Regions from separate parts of the Homo sapiens genome. Here region 1 is linked to region 2. The links come from fine-mapping of genetic effects on gene expression. Tissue or cell type: pancreas. Region 2 holds a variant in brackets; the other region holds the start of a gene. All regions are shown on one strand. Distances are from middle to middle.

What was found. PIP is the estimated chance that this variant, and not a neighbour inherited with it, causes the effect.
Region 1: it holds the start of FBRSL1, and the variant in region 2 is fine-mapped to the expression of FBRSL1 in pancreas (GTEx, PIP above 0.99).

What each region holds. Positions count from the first base shown.
Region 1 is chr12:132,489,099-132,491,707 of GRCh38, reverse strand. It overlaps FBRSL1 (fibrosin like 1), which reads right to left and starts at 1,557. Exons shown (of 19, transcript NM_001367871.1): 1 at 847-1,557. The coding sequence starts at 1,137. RefSeq lists enhancers at 1-469, 2,467-2,596 and silencers at 1,627-2,076, 2,207-2,276.
Region 2 is chr12:132,516,030-132,518,529 of GRCh38, reverse strand. The region is part of intron 2 of FBRSL1 (fibrosin like 1); the gene reads right to left. Among named protein-coding and RNA genes, the nearest start is that of FBRSL1, 27 kb to the right of the region's middle. The variant G/A (reference allele first, on the strand shown) is at 1,005.

The DNA.
Region 1 (2,609 bases), 27 kb after region 2:
GCTCAGCTTCTGAGACTGGGGGATCCCAGGCCATGGGCTCCCAAGCCCCTGGAAAAGTGAGAGGGGTTGGAAATGGGGTGATTCTGGGAGTCAAAGTCCAGCAGATGAGGGTCCCCCAAAGTAAGTGCTGCACGGGGCACACCTCGCTGGGCGGGTCTCGGCCCTGGTGCAGGGCAACTTGCTAGCATTCCTGCCCATGCCAGTCCTGGGGAGACAGCGCCTGCCCCAACTCTCAGACAGCATTTAATTTCCTTCTCTGCTCAGCTGAGTTCATGTAAGAGGAGCAGTATTTGCTCAGCAAATACTGTCCGTCAGCCAGACAAGCAATATTTTTGGCCAATCTATTAACCATGCAGCAGGCAGCAGTCACCAAGAGGGGTCTTGAGATTAACCCTCCTTCTCCCCTTCTCAGCAGAGCCCTCGAAGGGAGGAGGGAACGGGATGGCCCGCGGAGTATCCATTTTATCACCACCTCCCTAAGATCCAGCACTGCTCCCTAGCACGTCCTGAACCAGGCAGAGCGATATGCTGGCCACAGAAACACAACTGATAAAAGGCCGACGGTGCTGTCAGACAGCCCCCAATTTCGAAGCGTAGATTTTTTTGCCTCTGCAACTTAAAACGTCCCCAAACCCACCCGACGCTGCTGGGTCTTCCAGATGCGACGGTCTGGGCGAGCGGTGGGCACCCAGGGTCCCTGGAACGGGTACCAAGTGGCCGGGGCTTCCCTCAGGGCTGCCCACGGCGCGGGCGGTCGCAAGCCCAGGGGTCCCGGGATCGCCCGACGCGTCAACTCCGGGCCCCGTTCTCGCCTCAACGCCTGCGAAGCCGCACCCGTCCACCTACCTCCAGGGCCTCCAGGGTGCTGAAGCTGGCGATGGCGAAGCCGTCGATGACCTCCTCCTCCTGCGAGCTGGACTCGCGGCGGCGGCGGCGCGGGGGACGCGCGGTGCGGGGCGCGGGGGCGGCGCCTCGGGGGGGCGCGCCGCGGAGGCCCGCGTTCTCCTTGCCGGGGCTGGGCTCGGGCTCGTCGCCCGACGACGGACTCTGGGCGCGGGCGTCGCGGGCGGCCTCCCGGCGCCGGCCACGGTCCCGCTGCGCGCGCGAGCGCCGGCTCGGGCGGACCTTGGCCTCCATGGCCGCGCGTGCGCCCCGTCGGGCCGGTGACCTTGACGCCCCGCGCCTGGCTCGCAGCAGGCGGGCTCCCTCGGCTACGCGGCGCCGCCGGGCTGAGTGTGCGCCGCGCGGGCTCGGGCCCTGGGCGGCGGCGGGCGGCGGGCCGGGCCGGGCATGCCGGGCGCGGGGGGCGGCTCAGCCCCGGGCCCGGCGCGGCCTGGGACCCCCGGCGCGGGCGGCTGGGCGCATCGGCGGGGGCGGGCCCGGCGCTCAGCGGCCCTCGGCCGCCCCCCCGGGGGCGCGCCCCATGCGCGCGGCGCGGCGATCGGGCCGAGCGGGCGGGGCCGGGCGGGCGCGGCAGGCGGCAGGCGGGAGGCGGCCGGGCTCCTGGGCACCGGGCTCGTGAGGCGGCGGCGGCGCCCCGAACAGATAACAACTGACGCACTTCCGCCCGGCTGCGCTCGCCAGAGGAAGTGAGGGCCGCCGCGGGCGCCCGCGCGCCCCGCCCCGACCACGCCCCTGCCCCGCCCCGCTCATAAGGCTCCGCCCCCACCCCGCACACGCGGCCCGCCCCGCTCACAAGGCTCCGGCCCCTCCCCGCCCCATTCACGCAGGCCCCGCCCCCCGCAGGCTCCGCCCCCTCCCCGACCCGCTCACGCAGGCCCCGGCCCCGCCCCTCCCGGGCGCTCCCGCTAATTCAGGCCCCGCCCCACCCGCAGGTGCCCGCCCTTCGACCTCGCCCCCTAGCCGCGCCCCTCCCCGGCGCCCCGACCTCCGCTGCAGCCGGCGGTGATCCGCTCGGCTCCTTCCTGGGAGGGCGCTGGGATGCCGCGGCCCCTCCGTGGGCACCTGCGGGCGGCGCTCTCCAAGCGGGAGGCGGGGGCAGCGCCGCCCTCCTCTGCGGGACTGGGGTCCCCGGCCGCGGGCGGCTTCCGAGGAGGACGAGGGGCCTCCGGTCTCGCGGAACCGAAGTCCTGCCCTCGGCGAGCGTGGAAGGGACGGGGAAGGGGCGGGGAGGACCGGGGGAGGGTCCTCGGCCAGGCGGTGCCCCCTCCCCGCGTCCCCGCGGACCCTCCCAGGCCTCCTAGGATGCGGGAGGGGTCTGTCCGCGTCCCCGCCCCGCGCCACGTGCCCCCAAGTCCCACAAGAAGGCGGCTCCCGCCACCGAGACCCCCGGGAACGCGCCCAGCGAGGCGGGGGCTGCTGCCAGACACGGAGCGCAGTGTGGAGGGCGGCGCGGGCAGGAAGCGCACGGAGGCGGCTGCGGTTGCGAGGCAGGCGCGGGGCGAACTTCCTCCTCCACCCCCAGGACAGGCCGAGCTCGGAGGGGCCCGCCTGGTGGGGTTTTCTGAGCCCAGGGGCCCCTTGCGCGTGGGCACTGGAGTCATTGATTCATGCAGCGCGTATTTGCCAGATGCCTCCTGTGTCCAGGCTCTGTTGGTGACCCCGCAGCGGCTGAGATAGACTACCCTCTTAGAAGTGGGAGAGAGACC
Region 2 (2,500 bases):
ATGCATGCATGGTGGATGGATGGACAGATGGGTGGATGGACACATGGGTGGATGGATGGACAGACGGGTGGATGGATGGATGAGATACACTACAGACGGGTGGATGATGGACGCATGGGTGGATGGATGGACAGACAGGTGGATGGATGGATGAGATACACTACAGATGAGTGGATGATGAATGCGTGGGTGGATGGACAGATGCATGGGTGGCTGGATGGACAGATGGGTGGATGATGGATGCATGGGTAGATGCATGGGTGGATGGATGGACAGACAGGTGGATGATGGACAGATGGGTGGATGGATGGATGAGATACACTACAGATGATATGAGGGATGCTGGCTGAGTTAAGGCCTAGGAAGTGCGTTGCCAGCAGGCTCTTGGGGACACTAGTGTGTGTGGGCAAGTGCAGGTAAGTGTCTGCAAGGCCCTGCCTGTGCAGTCCTGTGTGCCGGAGGAGGGGTGGGAACAGCAGCTATGCTGTGTCAGAGTGGACTCCAGCAGGTGTGTGCCGCCAGCTCTGGAGTTGGGGCCACTGGACTCCTGGCTCCACCACATTTGCCGCCTGGGCTGCATCACTTGGTCTTGCTCAGTTGGCGCCCTGTCCAACAGAAGAATGACCTAATTCAAGCCACTGCCACCCCCTCCTGAACGGCTGCAGCAGCCTCCCGACAGGCGCCACCACCCCCACAACCGTGCTGCCTCCCCCACGAGTTTGTAAAAACACAGGAGCTCACGTTGTTCCCTGGCTTAAAACCCTCAGTGGTTTCCCTCTGTATGAGACCAGGCCCCTCCTTAGCCCTGTCTGCCCACCCCATGCCCGCTCGGCTCCTCAGGCACACGCCACCAGAGGCCTGGGTGGCTACACCCTCTACCCAGAGCGCTCTTCCCTGACCGCCTGGTCTAACGGTGCCTTCTCTCCTTCCCAGGCACAGCTGTGCTCACACTCAGAACAGTCTCCACCCGCTCTGCTGTTGTCCCAGTTATAGTTTAACTTCTC[G/A]AGGGCAGCACGGTCACTTGTCTTGTTTGTCACTGCAGCCCCAGGCCCAGAACAGGGGCGGAATGACCAAAAGTACAAAATGGATGCCAGTCGGAAGAGCCTTCCCGACCAGAGTGAGGCTGGGAAAGCAGAGGTGGCCATGCTCGCCCCGGAACGGCTAGCCCCAGGCTGTGGGGAGCAGTGCCTGCTAGGCCCAGGTGCTCAGCCTTCCTCTTCCACTCCCACCTAACAGCACCCTGGCCGGCGTGGCCCCCAGCCCTCCTGAGTGGCCCCTTCCCCTGGACCAACTCTTGGTTTGTAGGAGGGCCCTGTCAGGTGGGAGGAAGCTCTAGGACCCTGTGACCCAGCCTGCTGCTCCCTGCAGGTGGCAGGCCCAGGCCCAGTGTCTAAGGCACTGATTAACTGAGTGCCTCTCTCCACAGGCCCTGCACAGGAGGACCCTTGCCTGGCAACCGGGACAAAGATAAGCCTCTAGCGTCTGGGCCTCAAACCAGCCAGGCTGGGCCCAGGAGGCGGGAGAAATTACTCTGAGAATTCATAATAATAAAAGCAGGAATCGATATCATCATGGCAGCTATGTAGACAGTACAAACCTTGCATGTTAGCTCATTTTATCATCTCAACAACCCGAAAACAAATGAACTATTTAGTAACATCCCCGTTTTACAGACAGGAAAACTGAGGCCCAGAAAGCTGCCCTCCAGGTAATGGCCCAGGGTACAGATTCCACAACAAAGCCAAGCCGCTGGGCTTGAATCCTGGTCCAGCTGCTCACTGTGTGAACCTTGGGCAAGTTATTTACAGGCGGCTTTTTTTCTTCAGCATCCTCATCCGGCAAATGGGAATAGTTACAGGGTTGCAGTTAAACAAGCTGATGCATGTTAACTGGTGGAAATGTGCCTGGTACGATCAGAAAAGACTTCAAGTGTTAGGCTAGGCTGGCGACAGGGTGCTGAGCAGGCTGGGGGAGGTGGCACTGAAGACAGAAAACGTGGACATCCAGAAACTCCATCTAACAGATGTAAGACTCTTCAGATTATCTAAGCCGGGCGTGGTGGTTCACGCCTGTTCCCAGCACTTTGGGAGGCCGAGGTGGGTGGATCACCTGAGGTCAGGAGTTCAAGACCAGCCTGGCCAACATGGTGAAACCCTATCTCTACTAAAAATACAAAAATTAGCTGGGCGTGGTGGCACTTGCCTGTGATCCCAGCTACTCAGGAAGCTGAGGCAGGAGAACTGCTTGAACCCGGGAGGCAGAGCTTGCGCAACATTGTGCCACTGCACTCCAGCCTGGGTGATAGAGCAAGACTCCATCTCAAAAAAAAAAAAAAAAGACTATTCGGATTATCTATTTCATCTTGTGTCAGTTTTGTTTTCCAAGTAATTTGCCCACTTCACCTAAGCTGTTGAATTTGTTGGAATAAAATTGTCCCCATTTCACCTTTTTCGTGTCTATAGTGCCTGTAATGATATTTCCCCTTTTGTTCCTAATATTC